Linked DNA regions of Homo sapiens. The protein of the gene in region 3 interacts with the protein of the main gene of each other region in a pairwise test. Each region holds a gene or a part of one and is shown on either strand. Other genes may lie near its edges. The genes, in order: PSMA1, CWF19L2, NAB2, NDOR1, PHF1, CCHCR1 and KIF9.

Evidence for each region.
Region 1: the proteins of NAB2 (region 3) and PSMA1 interact in binary tests that used the Homo sapiens proteins (3 or more experiments, as listed by UniProt).
Region 2: the proteins of NAB2 (region 3) and CWF19L2 interact in binary tests that used the Homo sapiens proteins (3 or more experiments, as listed by UniProt).
Region 4: the proteins of NAB2 (region 3) and NDOR1 interact in binary tests that used the Homo sapiens proteins (3 or more experiments, as listed by UniProt).
Region 5: the proteins of NAB2 (region 3) and PHF1 interact in binary tests that used the Homo sapiens proteins (3 or more experiments, as listed by UniProt).
Region 6: the proteins of NAB2 (region 3) and CCHCR1 interact in binary tests that used the Homo sapiens proteins (3 or more experiments, as listed by UniProt).
Region 7: the proteins of NAB2 (region 3) and KIF9 interact in binary tests that used the Homo sapiens proteins (3 or more experiments, as listed by UniProt).

The regions. Positions count from the first base shown.
Region 1 is NC_000011.10:14,507,382-14,510,386, reverse strand, and holds part of PSMA1 (proteasome subunit alpha type-1), read left to right. Parts: intron 1-2,620; coding exon 2,621-2,731; intron 2,732-3,005. UniProt on the Homo sapiens protein: Component of the 20S core proteasome complex involved in the proteolytic degradation of most intracellular proteins. This complex plays numerous essential roles within the cell by associating with different regulatory particles.
Region 2 is NC_000011.10:107,451,326-107,454,825, reverse strand, and holds part of CWF19L2 (CWF19-like protein 2), read left to right. Parts: intron 1-253; coding exon 254-376; intron 377-3,500.
Region 3 is NC_000012.12:57,087,911-57,091,913, reverse strand, and holds the start of NAB2 (NGFI-A-binding protein 2), read right to left. Parts: upstream 2,801-4,003; 5' UTR 2,643-2,800; coding exon 2,560-2,642; intron 790-2,559; coding exon 1-789. Other genes in the region: NEMP1 (nuclear envelope integral membrane protein 1), read left to right, coding at 3,830-4,003. UniProt on the Homo sapiens protein: Acts as a transcriptional repressor for zinc finger transcription factors EGR1 and EGR2. Isoform 2 lacks repression ability.
Region 4 is NC_000009.12:137,212,200-137,215,699, reverse strand, and holds part of NDOR1 (NADPH-dependent diflavin oxidoreductase 1), read right to left. Parts: intron 3,199-3,500; coding exon 3,101-3,198; intron 1,921-3,100; coding exon 1,822-1,920; intron 1,734-1,821; coding exon 1,632-1,733; intron 1,497-1,631; coding exon 1,287-1,496; intron 1,131-1,286; coding exon 1,009-1,130; intron 903-1,008; coding exon 682-902; intron 606-681; coding exon 498-605; intron 294-497; coding exon 179-293; intron 42-178; coding exon 1-41. UniProt on the Homo sapiens protein: NADPH-dependent reductase which is a central component of the cytosolic iron-sulfur (Fe-S) protein assembly (CIA) machinery.
Region 5 is NC_000006.12:33,409,715-33,413,813, reverse strand, and holds the start of PHF1 (PHD finger protein 1), read right to left. Parts: upstream 2,801-4,099; 5' UTR 2,599-2,800; intron 1,567-2,598; coding exon of another isoform or gene 1,551-1,566; coding exon 1,392-1,550; intron 1,307-1,391; coding exon 1,225-1,306; intron 1,117-1,224; coding exon 1,021-1,116; intron 619-1,020; coding exon 518-618; intron 406-517; coding exon 257-405; intron 79-256; coding exon 1-78. UniProt on the Homo sapiens protein: Polycomb group (PcG) that specifically binds histone H3 trimethylated at 'Lys-36' (H3K36me3) and recruits the PRC2 complex. Involved in DNA damage response and is recruited at double-strand breaks (DSBs).
Region 6 is NC_000006.12:31,144,871-31,147,802, reverse strand, and holds part of CCHCR1 (coiled-coil alpha-helical rod protein 1), read left to right. Parts: intron 1-1,994; coding exon 1,995-2,107; intron 2,108-2,309; coding exon 2,310-2,355; intron 2,356-2,500; coding exon 2,501-2,637; intron 2,638-2,729; coding exon 2,730-2,918; intron 2,919-2,932. UniProt on the Homo sapiens protein: May be a regulator of keratinocyte proliferation or differentiation.
Region 7 is NC_000003.12:47,227,498-47,230,799, forward strand, and holds the end of KIF9 (kinesin-like protein KIF9), read right to left. Parts: intron 1,206-3,302; coding exon 1,155-1,205; 3' UTR 501-1,154; downstream 1-500. UniProt on the Homo sapiens protein: Essential for normal male fertility and for progressive motility of spermatozoa.

The DNA.
Region 1 (3,005 bases), on a different chromosome or scaffold from region 3:
TGTAGGTAGGTGTAATTTAAAATAGGTGGTTGAGGATATTCTCACCAAGAAAATGAAATTTGAGGAAAAGATATAAAGGAGGTAAGTGAGTATGAGCTATGCAGATCTAGAGCAAAATTATTCTAGGAAATACAAATGCAAAGGCCCTAGTATTTAAGGCAAGGAGGCCAGTAGTGTTGAGGTCAATCATCGAGAGGAAGAGGAAAAGGGAAGAAATCAGAGAGGTAATGGAGGTCCCATAAGCCATTGTGGTTACTCTGCATTTTACTCTGGGTGGGCTGTTAAGAGTTTGAGCAGAGGAATACCATGATTTGGTTTAGGTTTTAAAACAGTCACTCTGTTTGGCATTTTAACGACAGATTGAGGCTGGGCGCGGTGGCTCACGCCTGTAATCCCAGCACTTTGGGAGACCAAGGCAGGTGGATCACGAGGTCAGGAGATCAAGACTATCCTGGCTAACACGGTGAAACCCCATCTCTACTAAAAATACAAAAAATTAGCCGGGCTTGGTGGCAGGCGCCTGTAGTCCCAGCTACTCGGGAGGCTGAGGCAGGAGAATGGCGTGAACCTGGGAGGTGGAGCTTGCAGTGAGCTGAGATTGCGCCACTGCACTCCAGCCTGTCCAGCCTGGGCGACAGAGCGAGACTCCGTCTCAAAAAAAAAAAAAAAAAAACAACCGGTTTGTGGGCCAGCCGCAGTGGCTCACGCCTGTAATCCCAACACTTTGGGAGGCTGAGGTGAGTGGATCACTTGAGATCAGGAGTTCGAGACCAGCCTGGCCAACACGATGAAACCCTGTCTCTATTAAAAATACAAAAATCAGCCGGGCGTGGCGGTGCATGCACTCCAGCCTGGGTGACAAAGCAAAACTCCATCTCAAAAAAAAAAAAAACAGATTGTAGGGGTAGATAGATAGTGGGGCTATGGGTAGAAATAGTTTTAAGGCTATTCAGGTAATTATGTGAGAGATGATAGTGATTGCAGCAGAGTGACAGAGTTAAAGATGAAGAGTAGTGGTTCAATTTTGGATATCTTTTGAAATTACAGCCAAAAAAGTTTGCTAATAGATTTGTTATAGGGTGTGAGGGGGGAATGTCTCCAAGGTTTTGGGCCTAATTAATTGGAATGAAAGATTTATGATTTACTGAGGTGAAGAAGATAGTGGGAGGAACAGGTTTTAGAGTAGGCGTTGGGGAGGAAGGTCAGGCAGTCAGTTGCGGACATGTAAAATTTGAAATGCCTTTTTGTCTAATTGACGGTACAGAGTAAGCAGTTATAAGCAACACGTGGAGTTCCATGGAGAGTGGTCCAACCTACATTTCAAATTTTTGAAGTCTTTATATAGAAATGGCATTTAGAGTCTGGACTGGAAGAGATTCCTAAAGGAATTGAATAGTTAGACAAGCATTGTGAGGACTGGACCAAGAACACTAACCTTTAGCAACTGGGAGATGAGTTAGGTGTTGGCAAAAAAGACTGAGAGAGGTGGTCAAAGAAGTAGGAGGAAAACTTGGAAAATGAGGCATCTTTGGAGGCAAACGAATAAACTTTCAAGGAGGAGGGGCAATGAAGTTGTCACTGAGGACCTGACAAAACAGGCTTAATGGAATAATAAGGCAAAAACCTGATAGTGGAATCAGGAGAGAATGGGAGACGAGGAATTGCAGATAGCTTTTTGGAGGATATTTCTGTTGACGGTCACTCTGTCACTCTGCTCCAATCGCTATCATCTCTCACATGAATTACCTGAATAGCCTTAAAACTATTTCTACCCATAGCCCCACTATCTATTTACCCCTACAATCTGGGTTTTTTTTTTTTTTTTGAGATGGAGTGGTGACTGGAAGAGGAGAGAAATAAATTGTTTTGTTTTTTAAGATGGAAGAAATTACATCACATTTGCTGCATGATTGTGAGAGTAATCCAAGTAAATTTAGGGAAGCATTTATGAGGAAAAATAATGAGAAAATTGTTAGAACAATGTCCTTTAATAGTACATAGGTGGAAGGGTTGGCCTTAGGAAGTTTTAATGGGAAAGGAGAGAATCTAGGGACATAGGTACAGGAAAGAGTGGATACAGTGGGAACTTGTGAAAGTTCTCTTCTAATTGCTTCTGTTTTCGCAGTAATATAGGAACAAGGTTTTCAGCTTCAAAGAGCTTGGAGAATGTTAGAAGTGTCTAAAAGAAGGGGAGCATGAATGATGTAGAAATGGGTATAGTGGGATCCAGGAACCACTAAGGCCTACTTGAAGTTAATGATCATTAATAAAGTGAGATTAGTCAGTTTTATAAAGCCATTTTGTTATGGTGATTGGATAATTATTGTTTAATATCAATGTGAAGACTTTATAGCCTGCATTATCTTTTTAAAAAAATGTTTCTAGATAACATAGATCTTTGGAGTTACTCATGATAATCAAAAGTTAGTATTAATATTAAATCTGCAAATGACAAGGGTCCACTAGTTTCCTTCTTTTTTCTCCTACACATAAGTGGTTTTTAAGGTTTTATTCAAATGCTATATAAATTCTTATTCTGCTTTTTTCACCCAATATTTTATCGTATGTATTTTTTCATCCAAATTCTCTTATTTTACTTTTACCATATTTTACCCTTCAGAATGTTTCCATTGGAATTGTTGGTAAAGACTTGGAGTTTACAATCTATGATGATGATGATGTGTCTCCATTCCTGGAAGGTCTTGAAGAAAGACCACAGAGAAAGGCACAGGTATATAATCATAACACAAGAGGCTTTAGTTCTATTGTAAGCTGCTGTTCTTACCACAACTGTGTCTGTAAATTTTCCATTTTGTCTTAAATATTGAAATGGGCCCATAATTCAAATGGCAACAGGAAAATTAAGAACTGAGTAAAGTTAAATATTGAAAGGGCAGTGATCTCCATAAACACAAAAAGGGGGCCGGGTGCGGTGGCTCATGCCTGTAATCCCAGCACTTTGGGAGGCCGAGGCGGGTGAATCACGAGGTCAACAGATGGAGACC
Region 2 (3,500 bases), on a different chromosome or scaffold from region 3:
AAATAAAGCCAAAATTTTCCCAGTATTTTTCTGGTAAGAAGTCTCAGTTATATGATTTATTGATAGTGCATATATTATAGAAGGTGTGTTAAGATTTCCTGAAAGATTTTATTTATTTAGACATATTCTTGGTCTTATTTCATCAGAGATTGAAAGTTTTTTAGAATGTGGTTTATTTTTTTTCTCTCAGAATACATCCTTTTAAATTAAGATGAAATTAAATTATTTTCTTGCCTGTTCAAAATGATTGTAGGAACACTCTGTGAAGAAAAAGAAGAAAAAAGACAAGCATTCAAAAAAAGCAAAGAAAGAAAAGAAAAAAAAGAGCAAGAAACAGAAATATGAAAAAAACAATGAGTCATCTGATAGCTCATCAGTAAGTATGTACTAAAATTAATCAAAGCAGCTATTTGAGAACATTTTATTTGAATGTGTAACTTATGGGAAGTTAAAATACAAGAAAACGTAAAAAATATATTACTAGTTATGATATGAAAATATCTGGGATACATCTACTTAGAGATGTCCAGAAAATATTGGAAATGTTGATCTTGAATTTCAGAGAAAGGCTAAGAGGATAGGGATATGATTTGGGAATTATTGCTAAGCACAGCACTGGATCTTGCCCAAGGCCTGCTGTAACAATTACCTGGCTACAGCTGGTGTTCACTCAAGGCCCTGGGGCTCTGCAATCAGCAGGTGATGAAGCCAGCCAGGCCTGCGTCTTTCCCTTCAGGGTGGCAAGTTCCCCCAGGCCTGAGGGTGGGTCCAGAGGTGCCATCAGGGACCCAGGTACTGGCGTCAAAAACCTTAGACTTGTACCTGGTGTTCTATTGAACTGTGGCTGAGCTGGCATTCAACCTATGAATGGCAGTCCTTCCCACTCTTCCCTTTTCACAGGCAGAGGGGCCTCACCCTGTAGCCACCACCATAGACCCACAGGTAGTACTGGCAGGCTACCACTGATGTTCCCTTAAGGCCCAAGAACTCTTCAGTCAGCTGCCCGGCCTGGGACTCACCCTTCAGGGCAGTGGGCACCCCCTGGGCCAGGGCAGATCCAGAAATGCTATCCAAGAGCCAAGGCGTGGGGCTGGAGACCCCAAGATCCCTCTTGGTGTTCTACCACCCTGTGGCTGAGCTGGTACCTAAGGCGCAAGACAGAGCCCCCTTTACTTTTCTCAAGCAGAAGGAGGCTCTCCCCATAGCCACCACAGCTGGGAATGTGCTGAGTCTCACCTGAATCCAGCAAGTCTCAGATACACAGTGAAGGCCACAGTGTAGTACCCGATTATTGGTGCTGGTTATTCAGGGCCTAAGGGCTCTTTAGTGGTTACCAGCTATGGCTGAGCTGGTATTCAAGATGCAAGATGGAGTCCTGTATTTACTCTTCTCTCTCCTCTCCTCAAGCAGAAGGACAGGGTCTCTTTTGGAGCTGCACATTGTGCAGCCTTGGGTTGGGGGAGAGGTGGTGTAAGCACTCCCTTAGCTGCACCAGTTGCCCCCCAACCACCTGTCCATTGGCTCTGAGGCAAGTTTAGCACTAGGAGTCACCAAGGAATTCCACATCCTTGCTAGTACTTGGTATTGTCAGTCTTAGTAATTTTTAGCTATTCTACTGTGTAATGTCTCGTGTGATATTTCTCTGAAGAACAAGGATGTAGAGCATCATTTTAAGTCCCCATAGGGCATTCCATGTCTTTGTGAAATCTGATTTATTAAATATTTTCTTTTTTGTTTTTCATCATTTTTTCTTAGTGCTTCTGGTATCCTAATTTTTGCGCACCTCAAGATTGTGATTTCTCCTATGTTTATGTTATTATTAAATTTTTTTGTTTTTTGTTTGTTTTTAGAGATGGAGCCTCACTATGTTGCACAGACTGGAGTGCAGTGGCACCATCATGGCTCATTGCAGCCTCAAACTCCTGGGCTCAAGCAATCCTGCTGCCTTAGCAGCCCAATTAGCTATGACTACAGATGTAGTACAGAAAAGTTGTTTTTGTAGACATGGAGTCTTACTATATTGTCGAGGCTGGTCTCGAACTCCTGGGCTCTAGTGATCTCCTGCCTCAGCCTTCCAAAGTGCTGGGATTACGGGTGTGAGCCACCATGCTTGGCCTCCTATTTTTTTTCCCTAGAAGTTTTATAGCTTTGGCTTTTTTGCTTATTTATAATCCATTAATAATTTTTATTTATGTTGTGTAGTGTCAGTTTATTTTTTTCCCACGTGGATTTCCAGTTTTTCTAGCATCATTTGTTGAAAAGGCTGAATTTTCCCTATTGGAAGGAATTTAGGGAGATAGATATGTTAAAATATTCTTTCAATCCATTATGCACTTGGTACATCTCTCTATCCATTTATGTCTTTGATTTTTCTCACAATGTTCTGAAATTTTTAGTGTAGAGATCTTACATGTCGTTTGTTATTTTTTTTCCATTTTGTTTTCTGGAAGTGCTATCGTGAGTGGAATTTTAAATTAAATGTGTTTACAGCTAGTATGTAATTATAGAAGTGACTTGAAACATTAGGATCAGAAAAAAAAGAAAAAAGTGAAAAAAAACCTGCTTTTGATATATTCACCTTGCCTCTTATCACCATGTTAAAATTACTAATACTAGTGTTAGTAGCTTTTTTAGTAGATTTCTTAGGATTTCTAGGTAAATGGTATGTCATGTGTGAAAAAGACTTTTACTTTTTTCTTTTCAGTCTCTGTGCCTGTTTTATTTGTTAATTGTTGTTGCCTTATTTCAGTAGCTAGGACTTAAAAATAGTGTTGAATGGAAGTGGTGAGAGTGGACATGATTGCCTTTTTCCTTATCTTAGGTGCAAAGCATTCAGGTTTTTACATTTAAGCATGATGTCTGCTGTGGGACTTTCATGTATGCCTTTTCAGATTAAGGAAATGACATTTTATTTCTAGTTTTCTGAGAGTTTGTATCTTGAATGAGTATTGAATTTGGTAAGTGCTTTTTTTGCATCTATAAGTGTTAAAATTTGCCAGTGAAACGGTTTGGTCCTGGAGTTTCTTTGTGGAATGGGTTTAACGACAGAGTTAATTCCTTTAATAGTTGTGTTAAATACTTTCTGTTTATTCTTGAGTTAGTTTTAGTAATTTCGGTTTTTCTGGGAATTTATTCCATAGAAATTGTCAAATTTATTGTCATAAAGTTATTTGTAATATTTCCTTTGTTCTTTTAATGTTTACGGAATCCATAGTGATACCCCTCTTTCATCCCTGATTTTGGTAATTTCTATTTTCTGTTTGTTTCCTCTGTCAGTCTGTCTTGAGGCTTATCAGTTTTATTAATCTTTCTTTATTGCCTTTTAGTTTCCTTGAATTTTCTCTGGTTGTGTGTTTTCTATTTCATTGATTTAAACTATATTTATTCTTTGCGAATACTTTGTGTTTAATTTGCTCTTCTTTTTCTAACTTTCTAAGATGAATGTATCGCCACTGATTTGAAATCTTTTCTAACGTGTATTTATTTTATAAAATTTTCTC
Region 3 (4,003 bases):
TTCTGGCTGTCATTATCATCCATCTCAAAGATGTGCCCAACGCTCCGTGCCAGCTTCTTATTCAGCTTTAGCAGGGATGTGACCTCCCCAGCATCCCCCCTTGGGAAGCTCCGGAAGATCCTCTCCACACTTTCCACCACCATGCGTACCATCTCTGGCTCCAGTCGGTCTGGACCACCCCCAGTCCCACCTGCTGCCAGCCCCCCAGCCCCAGTCCCCTCAGGGACTCCTCCCCCTGCAGGGGGGGAGAAGGGGGGCGAGCCAGCCTCCTCTTCTCCTCCTGCCCCAACGTCCGACTCTGGAGTGCTCCGGCCTGGCCAGATCCGGGGGTCCCCTGCCCCAGGTCCCCCAGGCAGTGGTGATAGCTTCTCTCCAAGTTCAAGGGGGCTCTTGGGGCTAAAACTGCGGGCACTGCCTGCCTTTTCCCCTGGGCTGCCATGCCCATTGCTCATGCTCCCTTTCCGGGTACCCGCAGTCTCAGAGATCTTGAAGAGCGGGATGCTGGAGACGGGAACAGCAGGCACTGGTTGACTGAAGAGCCCTGGATTGGTGGCCCACTCTCTCAGTGCCTTCTGCAGGCGCCGGACATGGAGGGGCTTGGTGGCCATGCCCACAAGTGCCATGATCTCCAGAAACTCCTCCTCACCCGCCTCACACAGCTGCTGCACGTCGTCCCCTCCCTGCTGGATGAAGGTCTCATAGTAGGAAAGGAGGTTGGCGCGCTGCAGGACCCGGTACAGCTGCAGCTCCCCCAGCGTCCGAGGCAGTGCCATGGCTCGGGCACTGGGCCTGAGAAGGAGGGGCACAAGAGAGAGGCAGTCGGTGCAAGTCCCCCTACTGGGTACCAACCCACACTAACAATTGTTCCCTCTTTCCTGCCTGCTTTTCTTCCCCTCCCTCATTTGGATGCTATCCTGCCCAGTGCCCAGGTCTGAGTACAGACTCTCAGAATCAGGCACTGCTCAGAGGCATGGACAAGCCAGTGCCGTCCTAGACTGGCCCGAAGCCCCAAAAGTCAGTGGCCTGTGTCTGTAGGAGTCGAAGCGTCTTACAACCTTATCTTCAGCTTTTATCTTTTTGGTCTGGGGCAAGAAGAACTTGAGCGCTGAGGCTGACCAGCACCGACCTGGGATGGCTGGACCTCCCTCTCCCCCAAAACACAATCCTCACCTTCCCCTCTAAACACTCAGCAGTCTCAACACTGAAGTGAAGTCACCCATACTAAAGTGAATGTAGGAGCCCAGTCTCCCCCACAGTGGACGCTGCTGGCCAGCTTCATTCCCTGTGAAGGGGCCACAGCCCCAGGTGGCTAAAAGGGAGGGTGTGGCACCTTCCCTGGCTTTCCCACTCAGTGAGCCAGGTGGTGCCTTACTCTTCTCCGCTCAGCTTTTCCCAGGGGTTAAGCATTTATTTATTTATTTATTTATTTATTTATTTGAGACGGAGTCTCGCTCTGTCACCCAGGCTGGAGTGCAGTGGCGCTGTCACTGCAACCTCCGCCTCCCGGGTTCAAGCGATTCTCCTGCCTCAGCCTCCTGAGTAGCTGAGATTACAGGCGCCCGCCACCATGCCCGGCTAATTTTTGTATTTTTAGTAGAAACGGGGTTTCACCATGTTGGTCAGGCTGGGCTCGAATTCCTGACCTCGTGATCCACCCGCCTCAGCCTCCCAAAGTGCTGGGATTACAGGCCTGAGCCACCGGGCCCGCCCGGCCTGGTTAAGCATTCTTAACGCACGCTTCCTCTCTCCCCTCAGAACCTCTCCACCCTTCCAGGCTGCCCAGTGCTCCTCAGTGGCCCCTCTCCTAGCAGTGACACTCCCCACTTCCTCGGTCAGCCTTTTCCTTCAGCTCAGGGGCCGTGGCAGGGGGAGGGGCGCAATTGTTCTGCTCCGGGGCCGTTCCGCCCACACACACTCCCACAGTGGTAGCGTCTGTAGGCGAAAACCGCCCAGGGGCTCCCGCCTACTCTCCTCTCCCATATTTTCCACCCGCATCTTCAAGTGGAGTGGGGGAGCGGCTCAAGGCCTCTTGATGAAGGGGCTGCACACTGAAACTCCCCTCCCCGCTCTGTGAATAAAGGGACAGATATGGGAAGGAACGCCTAAGGCCTCCCTGCCTCCCTCGTCACCCCCCCTTTCCCCCGCTGATGCTCCTTTAACTCAAAGGCACCGGGGGCCCGCGCGCTCCGTGCCAACGAGGGACTGAGGCAACTGAGCGTCCCCCCACCTTCCGCACTGATGCCAGCTCGAGCTCCAGGGCATCCCCTGGTGCTTGGAGGCTCCCACATTCTTTGCAGGGGGCTCTTAGGCCAGATGGAGCCCACAGAGTAAACCAGGAATGGAGATTTGGGTACTACTCTTTCATATCCAGCTTCATCAGATGCTTGCCTGCTCCCAGGGCCCCCTAATTCGAAGACGCACCCCCTTTTCCATCAGTCTCCACCCCCCACCCCCGTCCTGCTTCCCCACGTCCTCCCCTCGACCTCCGCCCTCTGGACCCCATTCCCAAGTCCAGCTCCACCCATCTCCACTCCCCGCTGCCTCCCTTTGCCCACTAACTTGAGTCTGGGCTGCAGGGTCCGGCGGGCGCTGTCCCCTCCGCCCGGCGGCTGCTCGGCTGTGGGGGAAGGCGCTCTGTGCATGGACGGCCGGAGATCACCCGGGCTGCCCTTCTCGGTGCCCGGCGCTCGGCGCCTGCTGCGTGCTGCCCTCTTCCCCGCGCACGATGCCGTGTCCACCGCTGTCCAGGCTCTGTCCCTCCCTCCACGTCTTCTCTCTCCGAGCCTCCGCGCCTCTGTCTGTGCCTCTGCCCCCCCACCCTCCCCGGCTGCGCTTGCCGCCTCTCCGCGCCTCCGCCCCCGCAGGACGCACAGGGAGCGAGGCCCGGAGCTGCGCTGGCTGCCGGGCTGGCGGGCGGAGGGCGTGGGCAGAGCCGGGGGCGGGGGTGGGGGCGGGGGCCGGGGAGGCGGGCGCTGGGGCCTCTCGGCCGCGGAGACGCCGCGGCTTAGAGACTGGGAGAGGCGGAGACGGGGGGGGAGGGGGTGTGGAGCAGGAGGCGGGGGCGGGGATTCAGAGCCGGGGCGCCGAATTGGGGACCGAGGTGACCGAGGCCCGGCTGTGCAGGGCGGGCTTGGGGACCCAGCGGGCGGGGCGAGGTCGTTCTGTGCCGCCCACGCCGGATGCACAGCCGGCCCTCTTGGCGCCCACGTACCCACGTGAGCGCCCCGCCGGCGACATTCCTTCTCTCCCCCACCCCTCCGAGCTGAGAGAGGAGTTTCACAACCACGCACAAGTACACAAAGACACAGAAGCGCACGGACGTGCACACGCGCCTAAACAACTACGGGGACGCCCGTTGCCCATACTCAGGCCTTGTGGTGCTGGACGTGTGAATGTTAGCAGTGAGCCGGGAAAAGTTAGCGAAGGCTGGGCTGTGCGGCTTCTCCTGTGCGTGCATCTGACTCCCGTATAGTGTGCACTTAAGGCGGGCCTGAGAGCGTGGGGCTCTGCAGGGATCTCCTAGATATCCCCGCGCCCCTCCTCAGCCCCAATGGAATAATCTGAGGGGGTCGCTCTCAGAAACCCAGGCCTCCATGCTAGCCTGGAAAGTTTGGGAAACAGGAATGGGAGGGTTATGCTGCACGCCACCACTTAGGTGCGCGTGTTGATTAGACGCGTCGGCTTTTGTCAGCGCGTAGGTCAGGCAGGGATTCCTCCACTTGTCCTCTGTTTGCTGAGGATGAGGCCCTGCCTGGGAATTTTGTGTGACAAAGACGATACCCTTCCTGGGGCCGTCTATTAGGGACCTCGCCCGAGAGTCTAGTGGAAGATGAGTAAGAGGTCGGGAGCCTACGACGTGACTTCCTGCGGCGGAGCTGGAAGGAGGAGCGCCTTGAAGGAGCTTAGCCCCCGCCTCTGCAACCCACCACCGTCTCCCCCTTTGGTTTCTCCTAGCCCCATCTGGTTCGCATTGCACTCCCGCCCACGGCTGGGAGGGCTGTTG
Region 4 (3,500 bases), on a different chromosome or scaffold from region 3:
CAGACTCCCAGGCCGCACCCAGAGGGGCACCCGGACAGGTCCTATTGCAGGAAGGAGGTGGCATGAAGAGGATCAAAGACCTGTGCTGAGTCTGCTGGGGCCCTAGCCCAGCATTTGCATGAGCATGGGAGAGAAGGGGATATGGGCCCACGGCCCCCACCCTGGGAGCAGGGGTCACCTTGCCCAGGGTCCAGGGATGCCAGCCAGGAGGAGCAGAGGCCCCGGCGGGGCTCCTTGAGGCGAGTCTGGAACTGCACTACAGCCACGAGGATCTGCAGCCGTGAGGGGTGAGTCTGGGGAGGACGGCGGGGTGGGGGTGGTGGAACAAGGCTGCCCTCACCTGTGCCTGGGCCGTGGGCCCCACCTACCTCCCGCAGAGGCAGTCCGACTGGGGGAACGTCACCTGGTCAGAGGGCAGCCCCTGCTTACAAAACCCCACAGCCCCGGTCCCAGCTTTCCCAGGGCCGGTCCTGGGCTCCAACCACCAGGCCCCTCACCAGCAGCGAGGAGGCGATGGAGAAGGCCCTCGGCCGGATAACGGGGATGAGGTCCAACAGGTAGTCGGGAGGGATGGCGGCAGCTGTGTGCGGGAAGTCACAGAGCACCTAGGCAAAGAGAGTCTCAGGGTGGCTGCAGCGTGGCTGTAGCTCAGGGGCTGGGCCTGCCGCCCTCCCATCTCACCTCCAGGATGGTCCTGCGGGGCCGGTTGCAGTATTCAAAGAGCTCCTCCTGGCCTTGGGCAGAACTGAACTCCAGCAGCTTCTCCCGCTCCAGCTCATGGAGGGATAGACAGGCCAGGAGTTCGAAGAAGGAGCGGCGAGGCACGCTGGCGATGTCCAGGTAGTGGGACACGAGGTGCCGCATGGAGCAGGGCTGGGGCAGCCTCGTGGGGGAGGAGACATCTGCAGGGTGAGTGGGAGGCCTCCGTGGGCTGCGGCGGAGCCCTTGGGGTGGGGGCCCAGGGCACGGGAGAGGGCAGAGAGTCAGGGTGGCCGAGGCTGGGCTCACCTGGCTCCCGCGGCTGCAGCATGAAGAGCTGGTCAGGGTCCAGGCCCAGCACCTGGCAGAACCGCTGGACATGGGCAGCCGAGTTGGAGGGCTGAATCAGCACCACATCACCAGCAGCAAAGCTGTGTGGAAGAAGCCACCAGGGCTGTGGGGACGCCGCAGGGAGGATGTCGGGGCCCCGGATAGAAGTCATCCCCTGCAGCCCGGCCCAGCCTCCTCCGAACCCCAGACCCACGGCCCACCTCACCTTGCCCTCCTCGGTCCCCAGCAGTCCCCACCTGATGCCAGAGCCCAAGATGTCAAACTCAATCAGCCGAACGTCCTGGAAGTGGGAGGGGCCGGTGACTCTCTGGTTGGAGATCATGGGTGCTAGGAAGGGCTTCGACTCTGACGGGGGCTCCTGAGAGCCGGGGTGAGCTACCCGCTGCCCCTCAGAGCCCGTGCTGGGTGCCTCTTGGAGGAACAGCAGGGTGAACTTGGAGGGCAGGCTGTGGGAGGGCACGCTGGTCAGACCAGGACCCACTCCCCAGGGGCCGCCCACCCACACGGGAGGGACCCAGGGCGAGGTCCCCAGGCCAGGTTGGGTCTGCTGCGCCTGTGGGTGACCCGGGGCCCACACTCACGGGACTCCGGGAGGGATCTCAGTGAGGCCCGGAGGCGGCGGGTACAGCCCCAGAACCCTGTCCCACAAGTCTCGCAGCCAGGGGTCCACAGCAGCGTCGGGCCTGGGAGGGAGCACGTGCGCTGGCCTGAGCGGACCCTGCGTGTGGCCAGACCAGACTGTGGAGGCGGGTACCACGCCCGCAGACTCACCCCAGCTCATGCTGGTCATCGCCCAGGCACACGGGCAGGAGGGCGCTGCCCCCAAGCTGCAGTAGCCGTCGGTGCAGCTTCTTGGCCACGAAGTTGAACCTGTGGAGACAGTGAGGCTGGTCCTGGGCTGGAGCCCGGGCGGAGAGTGGTGCCCAGGCAGAGTGGAACCCGGGAGAGTGGAGCCCGGGCGAAGAGTGGAGCCTGGGGAGGGCCTCCCTCGGGTGGAAAACACACTCCACGCTGGCCGCACCCTAGGAGGGGGCAGGGCCTCCACACGCCAGGGGCTGCCGAGACCAGGGCAGCTGCCAGGGTGCCAAGCAGCAGGTCCTCTGCTCGCAGAGAATGAGCCTGTGTGGGTGGGAGCAGGCGGCCTCGTCCCACTGATGGGCCCTCATCCCTGGGCAGGGACTTGAGGCAGCTGAGGCCTCCAGGCCCCCAGCCAAGATGTGGGTCACTCCTCAGCTGAGAAACTCTGTGCTGGGGAGAGAGCCAGGCATCTTCCCGGGGGTCAGTTTCTCTTCTCACTCTGGTTCCGAGGCATGACTGGCTCTGGGTCACGCTCCTCCCTGGGAACGCTGTCGGCAGCGGCCTCCCTCCCTCTCTTGAACGAACACTGTGTCCCACACAGAACAACGTCACGCAGGAAACAACGTCATGCACGGACCTACGTCACGCACGGAACAAAACCTCCCGGCAGAACCGGGGGGAGCTGTCTCCGATCTTCCCGTTCTTTTTCATCTGAAATGACTGACACCTGGCTATGCAAACGGCTTTTGATGCTCGGTGCTCAGCGGACCTGGGCCCTACGTGGACAGTCGGGGTTTTCACCGTTGTGGGGTCTAAAGATGCCATTTGCACACTGAACATGCCACTCCTTGCTTAGGGTGCAGAGGAGCACTGTGAAAATGCCCAGGAGAAAAGGCAGAGGTGGCCTCTGGGGTGGCAGGAGCATACGGGGTCCTCCTCCAGGCTCAAAGTCGTCAACACTTCACAGCACGCCTTTTTGTAAAAGTGGGGACCGGCGCCAGGTAGGCCTGTGTGACGTCAGCGTGGCTGGAGCCCAGCCCTTTGCCACCCTGCCTGCTCCCCTCTGTGCCCTCCCCGCAGCGTGAAGCCTGGGGTGCCCACCAGGGAGCGTTGTGGAGAAGCCAGTACCACTGCGAGGGCCCTGAGGCGCGCAGGGGCCGACCCTGGAAGCTGGTCTCGGTCCTCTGCCAGCACACCTGTTGCTCGACCCCCAGAACTGTTCCGTCCGCCCACTGTCCCATCCCCTACTCACTTGGCGTATGAGGAGTCCCCGAGGCCCAGGACGGCAAAGTCCATCTGACAGAGGGCAGTGGAGGGCAGGTTCTTCCGGAATATAAACCTCCAGAAGTTCTACAGCCGGAGGAAACTCTGAGTCAGAGTCCTCGACCTCTAGGCTAGCCCCACAGCAGGGGGTGAGGGGAGGGTCTCAGGGGAACAGGCAGGTGGGTAGGATGGGGGCAGAATACAACTGGACCTATCTGACCAAAAGGCAGGGCCCAGGTCCAGCCTGCAGGATGATGGGCACCGGGAGGAGGCAGGGCTGGTCCAGCGTCTAGGGAGACCAGGTCCCACCCTGCCCACAGGAGCCAGACCCTGCTGTGCTCTACAGGCCTGCGTGGAGCTTCCTTCCTGGGACATCACCCTCCTCTGCC
Region 5 (4,099 bases), on a different chromosome or scaffold from region 3:
GGCTTGCTCAGACACTGGGTGCAGGCCTCATGGAACCACTGCAGGCAGCTCCGGCACTGCAGCATTTTCAGGTTCCACCTGAGGGGGAACACAGGACTTCTGGCCTCCAGAAACCCCCTTCCCCATAACTGTCCCAAACCCTAAACTTACCTCCTATCCCCCTGAGTGCTACCCTCATCCTGTTCTTTTTCCTTCATTTCCTGGGATCCACCACCACATCATTCATTCCACAGTCTGCTCCCCTCTCATTACTCACTCCCCAGGGCCACCACAGTAACAGTAACTCTGCTGTCGGTTGCTCAGATGTCCAGCATCCCAGTCCAGCCCCTTCAGTCCATATGGCAGAGAAAGCTTCATACCCAGCATGGCCCGGGCATAGGGGCCCTTCTTCAGGGCACCTCCCCTCTGCAGAGACAGGACAGGTGGGTGGCTTCAGAGGGGTGGGGAGAGGAAAAGGCTTGGGAGAGGCTGTGGATGGGAGGCTCCCACAGGAAGGGTAACAGGGAAGTGCCTTTACCTTGGTGGCGATCGCAAAGACACACTGGCGGCATACCCAGGATGTGCCCTCTCCCTCTCCAGGGGCTGGAGCCCTGGGAACATGGCAGTCCTGGTGATAAGCTGCAGTGATAATAGTAGACCACTTATTGCATACCTGTGTGTGCTTGGTATTGGGACAGGAATAGTCTTTACCCATCTCATTTAATCCCTGACCATGGTCTTGATGAGGGGGTGCATTATCCTTATTTTACAAGTCAGGGAACTGAGGCTCCTAGAGGTTAAGGGACTTGTCCGAGGTCATATGGTTAGAAAAGGATGCATTTAAACCATCTTCTGCCTGCAAAGGTTATACCACCCCTTTCCATGGCTGCTTCTCCCTGGGCTGAAAGCGGATGAGGACTAAGATAAGGCTAAGCAGCCTGGCCAGAGCAGTGGCTTGGGGACTAAGGCCAGGACAGGTGATATAGAGACCATCCTGGAGGGAAGAGCAAGCTGGACCATTCAGGTGACCTGCCCTCTCACCATGGCGACACTTCTCACAGCTGACCAGCCGGTTCCCAGGGACCACAGTCTCAGAGCGACAGACACAACAGAGGAGTTCCTCTCCAGGGAGGGCAGCTGTGAGAGAACACAGTGTCACAGGGCCTGCCTTTAAGTCTCTTTCTGCCCCTCTAGGCCAGGTTTGTTTTCCATGGGATGTGCAATCTCAGGTCTCTAGAGTCTTACCAGGGCTAATGTCTTTCCATAGAACCAGAAACTGCGAATCATCCTCAAACTGGACCAGACACACCTCCCTAGCACTGTCCACCTGGAATGGGTGAGCAAACAGGATGAAATGGGAACCAGAATTAGATAAGGGAACTAGGAAGAAGGTCAGAGGTAGAAGGTCTTACCTTTTTGATGGTACCCAAGTATAGCAGCCCATCAGTCCATCTGGCCAGCACATCTTGACCCTCCCAAAGCCGAGGCCTGGGGCCAGAGGTGGGAGCAGGAGAAGCTGGGTCCCAAAGTGAGGAGGCACCAGAGCGGCTCAGCCGGGGGGGCTGCGCCATTGCATCCTGGGGGGGCCTAGCCAGAAAAGAAATGGGGAGGAGAAGGTTATGAATGCTGAGAAACCTTCCCCATTTTCTTTTTCTTTTTTTTTTTTTTTTCCTGAGATGGAGTTTTGCTCTGTCGCCCAGGCCAGAGTGCAGTGGCACAATCTTGGCTCACTGCAACCTCCACCTCCCGGGTTCAGGCAATTCTCCTGCCTCAGTCTCCCAAGTAGGTGGGATTACAGGCGCATGCCACCATGCCTGGCTAATTTTTGTATTTTTAGTAGAGATGAGGTGTTGGCCATGTTGGCCAAACTGGTCTCGAACTCCTGACCTCATGATCCACCCACCTCAGCTTCCCAAAGTGCTGGGATTACAGGCGTGAGCCACCGGGCCCGGCCAGCCTCCCCATTTTCTTTGCCTATTTTGCCATCAAGAATGAAGTATCTGTGCCCCCATCTCCAAATCCCTGAGACACCTTGATAGGAAACCACTGGGCACCCATCACCAGCTTTTTGAGTCCTCTTCCAACTCTAGTGACTGGCTCTCCTCTCGGTAACTAACAGCCCTCCCCCCGACCCCAAACCTAGTTGCTAGTTTCCCAGCTTCCAGAGCTCTCCTGGGATATTATATACTGGCCTTGAAATTTTAGGAGAAATTATGGTTGTAGAAGCAAAGGCTACTCAGTTTAGAGGTATCATAATTAGGGTGTCCTGTTGCCCAGAGACGTGTTTTGGGACCTTTTCTGGAGATGTTTTCCAGAGCAGAAACGGCTGTCTCCCCAGGCCTGCGCGTCTCATTAAGAACAATCATCCTGGTGCCAGGTTATGTCAGGTCACCCTCAAATTCGGGGCTCCCTGCCCCCGGGTTAGACAACTTCTCTGAGTGCCCCGGGAGGGGGGCGTGTCCCAGTCCCGGTCTCTACTCCCCAGGACGGCAAGTCCGAGAAGGGACTTGTGTCGGCCCAGCCCGGACCCGAGGCCAAGGCGGCGAGGCTCTCCCGCCCGCGCCCCGCGCCGACCCCCGGCTCCCTGCCCCCCACCAGCGCCTCCTGCCGCCTCCTTACCGGTGACAGCTGGGGCCGCCGGGAGCCGGGCAGGGGCAGACGTAGGAGACCTAGGCGAGTCCCCCGCGCGGAGAGGGCACGTCCGGGCGTGGGGGGGCGTGCAGGCGGAGGCCGGGGGGTCCCCAGGCCCAGCCCCTCCGTCCCGGCGGCTCTGGGGCGTATGACGCAGCAGCCAAAGCAGCGGCAGCGGCAGGAGGAGGAGGCGGCGGGGGGGAGGGAGGGAGGGGAGGGACGGACCGGTTGGGGGGGAGGGTGGTGGGAGGGGAGGACTGGGGGAAAGGAGGAGCCGGAGGGGGGGGCGGGCACCACCTCACCCCACCTCCCTCACCTCCAACAGGCCTGGAGGGCGCCGAAGAAGAGGCTGGCCCTCCGCGGCTTGGGGAGCGAAGAGTCGGACCCGGTGGGAGAGGGAATCCCCTCAGCCCCTTCCTCCGACCTGAGATTCGCCCTTGGGGCACGAGGGAATCCCCCCTCCCGGCAGCCCGCCTCCGGCCTGGTCCCCCGCCCCATGCCACATCCGTTAGCTGCCCCACCCCCCATGGTCACTCCAAGTCCCGCCCCCCGGCCCCAGTTCACAGCCCCGCCCTCCATTCACCCTTCTCGATGCCCCCACCACGCCCTCCTCCCTCGCGCGCCCCGCCCTCCCCGTGACGAGTCGCGCCCCACCCACCGCCCTTTTGCGCACGCGTGTCCCCTCCTGCGCGCGGCACCTGGGAGGACTGAGCCCCTCCTTCACCGGGCGGCGGCCGTCGGCGGTTGGCGCGAGGGAGTCGGCGGGCGTGCGCGCCGCTTCCCGTGGACGTCCCGCCCCGTGCTTCCAGGGCTGGCGCAGACGAAGGGCGCGAGGACCCAAGGCGGTGACGCCACCGAGAGCCAGCCAATGGGCAGCGAGCGGGCAGAGCCCCAGCCGTTCGAACGGAAAGGCAGGGAAAGGGCGGGACGGGAGGAAAGAGCCAACAGTTTGGGAGCGCGCGCTAGCCCCGCCTCTGGACTCTGGGGTCCGGTCCCCATTTGCCGACACCCACCAAAGGAACGTTCTTCCCTGGGGCTGGGGTGGCCGGCGGAAGGGTGAAAGTTACCTATAACTAGTGACCAAGGAGGGGGCGTGGATAGCTAGAGGGCACACCTCCCTGATGTGACGGACGGGGTAGGGGGTATTAGCAGAGGGGAAGATGATCCAGGCCAAGGTCCAGAACCGGTGATAGCAGAGGGGAGAAAAGACGAAGCCCTCAGCCCCCGCTCCCGCCTCCCACGTAAACGTTTGGCAGAGGGTACAGATCACAGCTCCCACTTTTACAGATATGAAAGTATCTGCCTTCTTGGGCAAATGCTAATAAAACCTTTATTTAAAAAAAAAACCAAACTATTCTTTATTTGATAGCCCTGGGACATGGTGCCCTCCACCCAATAAAGCACCCTCCAGCAACCCTCCCACCCCTCACCCGATACATAGACATAGGGACACACACACACACACACACACACACACACACACACACAC
Region 6 (2,932 bases), on a different chromosome or scaffold from region 3:
TAGGGACGGGGTTTCACCATGTTGGCCAGGCTGGTCTTGAACTCCTGACCTCAGGTGATCCACCCACCTCAGCCTCCCAAAGTGCTGGAATTATAGGTGTGAGCCACTGCACCTGGCCTAGTCTATTTATTTAAAGCTATATACTTACTTGCTTATTATATACTTAACTTGCTTACTATTCCATCTAAAATGTAAGCCAGTTAGTTTCCTTCTAAATCAATTGCCAGCCTTTGTCTCTCCTACCAACTTCCTAGTTGTTTCATTACCTACAATTGTTGTATGACCTTCAGAAAAACCTCTAAGAAAACAGCAAAGCTTCTTTGTGCTGGTGATGACTTCCCCTCAGCCTTAGACACTGAGGTACCCAAGGCAGGTAGTTCTTTTTTTTTTTTTTTTTTTTTTTGAGACAGAGTCTCGCACTGTCACCCAGGCTGGAGTGCAATGGCACGATCTCAGCTCACTGCAACCTCTGCCTCCCGGGTTCACACGATTTTCCTGCCTCAGCCTCCTGAGTAGCTGGGATTACAGGTGCACACCACCACACCCGGCTACTTTTTTGTATTTTTAGTAGAGACAGGGTTTCACTGTGTTGGCCAGGCTGGTCTCAAACTTCTGACCTCGTGATCCGCCCGCCTCGGCCTCCCAAAGTGCTGGGATTACAGGCTTGAGCCACCGTGCCTGGCCGGCAGGTAGTTCTTAGCACAGTCTCTGGCTTGTAAATGTTTATTGTTATCGTGAGGCTCTTCTTGATGGGTTAATTTAGATAAAGATAATTTTTGGTTTAGCGAAATTAAGATGCAGGATGAGTCCTTGCCCATCACTTCCTTCTCTTGGATTTGTACCTTAGGGACTAATTTAGCTTTAAAAATTATGAAAAATTTCAAACTTGCACGGAATTAAACTAGTTATAATGACCTACCACCCAGGTTCAATCCATCGCGGGTGCCCCCTACCTCCAGGAGAACAGAAAGATGCACTGTGGACAGGGTTTGACTTTGGTACCAGGCGATCACAGAAATGGTCTGTGTAATGATGCATTTGCCGAAAGTCCTCCAGGCTTAAAGCAGTCCAAACTCTGATTGTTGCTGGGTTTATTAGATTGTCTCTAGGTAATTGGAGACTTTAATAAGGGCTGTGGTAGGTGTTGGAAGCATCTACTGGAACAATTTCCAGATCAAAGTGAACTTTGCTGTGCTGCTGGGGATGCAGCTGCAAGCCTTCATCATCATGTGTTTTTCTGTGGGTGCAGACCTGGACTCTCCTGAGGAAACCCCAGCCCGGCCCCAGACACTCCTTGGCCTCCTCCTGGGGCCTGTTTAAGCTGCTCAGTTTTCATGAGCCAGGTTGGTCCTACTTCTGGCACAGCCAGCTGGTAAAGCATGTGGACCTGCCCGTCATTGGTGCTAGATCGACACTCCTGGGCTTGGAGAGGATAACTTTGTTTTCTTTTGTTTTTTTGAGATGGAGTCTCGCTCTGTCACCCAGTCTTGAGGGCAGGGGTGCGATCTTGGCTCACTGGAACCTCCACCTCCTAGGTTCAAGTGATTCTCGTGCCTCAGCTTCTGGAGTAGCTGGGATTACAGGCATGAGCCACCATGCCCGGCTAATTTTTGTGTTTTTAAGTAGAGAGAGTTTCACCATGTTGGCCAGGCTAGTCTCCAATTCCTGACTTCAGGTGATCCGCCCGCCTCGGCCTCCCAAAGTGCTGGGATTACAGGCAGGAGCCACTGCCCCTGATCAGAGAGGATAACTTTACTCTTTGATACACGATAGTGAGCAAAACACAGTTGTGAGAAATAAGCTTAACAGGTTGCTTAAAAAGATAGTCATTTAATGCATTCTTGGGGCAAGGGTCCTTTAGATAATTGACGGAAGCTGTGCGTTCTGTACTTGTATAATGGGACAGGATTAGAGGGAGTTGTCTATACAAGGCACAGCAAGTCCTTTGGGAATGAGGGGAGGCATGGAGGATCAGTGACTTGTGCCCTCTCCAGCTCTCAGATCTGGCTCGAGACCACCATGGCTAAGGTGGAAGGGGCTGCCGCCCAGCTTCCCAGCCTCAACAACCGACTCAGCTATGCTGTCCGCAAGGTCCACACCATTCGGGGTGCGTAGGACAACTGCGAGCCACGTCCTGCCCCCACCCCACCAGCTCGGACTTTCTTCTTCCTGACCCAGCTCTCTCTGATCCCACATCCATTCACCTTCCTCCTTTCACCAGTCCTTGCATCTCTTTTTCCCTTACTCCCTGTCCCCACTTTCTCCCATGCAAACTTCATCTCTTTTTCTCCCTGCTTTTTCCCCTCCAGGCCTGATTGCTCGAAAGCTTGCCCTTGCTCAGCTGCGCCAGGAGAGGTGAAGTTTGGGCACTTTGAGGTGGATGGGGCTTTAGGGCATTGGCTGCTGGGACCCCCAAAACCATGAGGACTGAGGTGGGATGGGGGCTTTGGGATCAGGCAGCTGGGTGATTTCTTCTGACTCTTTCTCTTCCCCGTCCCAGCTGTCCCCTACCACCACCGGTCACAGACGTGAGCCTTGAGTTGCAGCAGTTGCGGGAAGAACGGAACCGCCTGGATGCAGAACTGCAGCTGAGTGCCCGCCTCATCCAGCAGGAGGTGGGCCGGGCTCGGGAGCAAGGTACACCTGGTTGCCAGGGGGTGGAGAGGATGAGGAAAAACCCGGTGTCTAGGGTGCTGGGAGAGGCCTGACCCAGCACCCCCTCCTTTTAGGGGAGGCAGAGCGGCAGCAGCTGAGCAAGGTGGCCCAGCAGCTGGAGCAGGAGCTGCAGCAGACCCAGGAGTCCCTGGCTAGCTTGGGGCTGCAGCTGGAGGTAGCACGCCAGGGCCAGCAGGAGAGCACAGAGGAGGCTGCCAGTCTGCGGCAGGAGCTGACCCAGCAGCAGGAACTCTACGGGCAAGGTGTCGAGAGGGAA
Region 7 (3,302 bases), on a different chromosome or scaffold from region 3:
CCCACTGTTGGAAGAATAACAGAAACCTCAAGGCCCTGATGAGGGTGTCAGACGGGGGAGCACCCACAGAGTGTCAGGCCAAGGCCTTGACCCATAAGAACAGAAGAGGGGGTGAGATACAATTCCAAGGAAGCACTGAAACTTTTCGCTCAGTGGAGACTTGGTTTACCAACCCAGGGGCGTATCAGTCAGCCTGGAAGGCCCCAGAGGGCCTGAGTTTGTTCTCTGAGCAAAGTAATGAACTCTTTCCCTTTGGTGCCACCACCAAGGGCCCAAGCTGCAGCCTGGTAACTTGATAGAGAGTGATATCTTCTCTCTTCCCTGCTCAGCCTTGACAGTGATCCCAGTTCCTATTCAGGGTAAATCGTTCACTTTCACTTCTGCTCAGTGCAGCCTACACGGAGAGAGAAAGCGGGGAGGGGAGGCACCCTGGTGCCTGGTGGCCGTGCATGCTGCGTAGGGAAGGCCGTGGTGTTCTGGAAACATGCAGAGGACATGTCTCCCAGAAGCTGCTCATTTATTCCCTGGTACATGGAGCCAGCTCTGCCTCATCCCTTTCTGGTCTCTGTGGCTAGACCTTATCCTCCCCTGGTTGCCAAATGAAGGAGGGCCTCCTCCTGTCTTCTTCACTGGCTCAGAAACACAGAAAAGATGTCTTGAGAGAACTTAGGGTCTGAGGGAGCTGTGAGAAGCAGAGCTCCTCAGACCGAGCTCACCACCCCCACCCTAGGATGTCTATCCAGGAAAGGGGCTGACCAGTGTGACAAAGGCCTGCCAGGAGGAGCCTGGCTGAGCTACTTTTCTGCCTTCCTACTTGAGACTCAGTTCTGACCTCACACATACATAGAGAATATGTCCTTTCAGACAGGAAATAAGACAAAGTTCTCAGATGAGCACTGAAAGTCCAAACTAGAAAGTTATTTTATCCTGTCCCTGCATATAAGACAGTGAATTAAAACCCAAAGTGCTCTGTGGAGATGAGCAAGGTTGTCCTTGGAGGATGCTCCTCCCAACATGCAGGCCAAATGTGTTCTCTGTGCTGGGTCCCAGCATTGGAGTAGAGGGGGCTGCAGCTCTGGGCAGGTGGTTGAGCAGCTCCACTACAGTAGGTGGGAGTTGCTGGTCTTGTCCTTTAAGGTACTGGCGATGAGGTTCTATTTTCTATGTGCCTGCTGGAGGCCCATCATGGTTTTCAAGTAATTATGCTGGACACAGAGGGAAGAGAAAACAGGAACTTATTAGGAGGGACAGACATAGCAGGGACTCAGACCAGGCCACTCACATTCACCCTATCATTCCTCCTGCAAACATCATGGGTTGTGGACAAGGATTCCTTCTGAGTAGCCCCAATTCTCTGAGAAATAACATCCATTCAAACTCTTTCATTCTTTTATCCTAAAGAAAGTGTGTAAAACTATTTTAAAACAGTCTGGCAGGCATATTTGAAAGGAGGCATATAGGTTTCAAGGGCATTCTTGGGAGTTTCTGATAGGGAATAGGTTCAGAAAGAAAAGAAGAGGGTTCTATCTCCAGAGGAGTTAGGGGCCAGGTATTCAGAAGGGCCCTCTCTTTGCCACTGCAATCAATCAGATGTTCACAAATTATACCTTTTTAATGCATCACTAGGCTCTTAGAAAGCAGGTGAAAACTGTAGGCTGAAACAGAAACAGTGGGCTGTAAGCCAGCAAACGCTAAAACTAGCTTGGAACATGGAATCTTAGGTTCCCCACAAAGTAGGAGTCTGAATTGAAGCTCCCATATTAAACTGGAATTCTTGAAGAGGGTTAAAATGGTCCTGGGTTGGTAATGCCCCATGGGTAACTGCAGAAAGCAAGTGCAAACCTTTTCAGGGGGAAAATAATTTCTATTTATGTGTTCAGGTCTCCTTGAGCTTAAGTTCAATCAAACACAAGGTCACGATTTCAATACACACACAAACACACACACATACACACGCCACTGTCAAGCCACCATGAGACTCAGTAAAACAGGAAACAGATTTTGACCATGAAAAATCTGATCTATATGTTTCCTATATAAAAGTATATATTTAAATAACTAAAACATAGAATTGAAAGAACATGGAATGGTTCGAGTATAACATTTGCATAAAAAGTCTGTGCATGGGCATATCTTAAACATTAAAAATGGCCAACACAGAGAATTATAGAGATTGGGGAATGAGAGAATAGAATTTTGACCTGTAGAAATACAGGACTCCTCTGCTTAATGATTTAGAATTTTTTTTTTTTTTGAGATGGAGTCTCGCTCTGTCACCCAGGCCGGAGTACAGTGGCGCAATCTCGGCTCACTACAACCTCTGCCTCCCGGGTTCAAGCGATTCTCCTGCCTCAGCCTCCTGAGTAGCTGTGATTACACGTGTGCACCACCATCCCCGGCTAGTTTTTGTGTTTTTAGTAAAGACAGGGTTTTACCATGTTAGCCAGGCTGGTCCTGAACTCCTCACCTTAAGTGATCCACCCACCTCAGTCTCCCAAAGTGCTGGGATTACAGGCGTGAGCCACCGTGACTGGCGAGTTGCACATTTTAAATGGGTGAATTGTATGGTATGCAAATTCTGTCTCAATAAAGCCTTTTAAAAAGCATAAAATAAGAATTTATTTAAAATAACTATCTGGGCACAGGGGCTCACGCCCATGATCCCAGCACTTTGGGAAGCTGAGGTGAGATGATTGCTTGAGCCCAGGATATCAAGACTGCAGTGAGCTATGATCGTGTCACTGCACTCCCTCCAGCTTGGGTGACAGAGCAAGACCTTGTCAAAAAAAAAAAAAAAAGGCTGGGTGCAGTGGCTCATGCCTGTAATCCCAGCACTTTGGAAGGCCCAGGCAGGAGGATCCCTTGAGTCTAGGAACTGAAGACCAGCCTGAGCAACATAGGGAGACCCAGTCTCTATTTTTAAAAAATTGTTTTTAATTAAAAAGAAAAAGAATGCCAGGCACGATGGCTCATGCCTGTAATCCCAGCACTTTGGGAGGTCGAGGCGGGTGGATCACCCGAGGTCGGGAGTTCGAGACCAGCCTGACCAACAGGAAAAATCCCATCTCTACTAAAAATACAAAATTAGCCGGTAGTGGTGGCGCATGCCTATAATCCCAGCTACTCAGGAGGCCGAGGAAGGAGAATCGCTTAAACCTGGGAGGCAGAGGTTGCAGTGAGCCAAGATCACACCATTGCACTCCAGCCTAGGTGACAGAGGAAGACTCCATCTTGTGGGGGAAAAAAAAAGAAGTTACCCAGGCTGGGCACAGTGGCTCATGCCTCTAATCCCAGCACTTTGG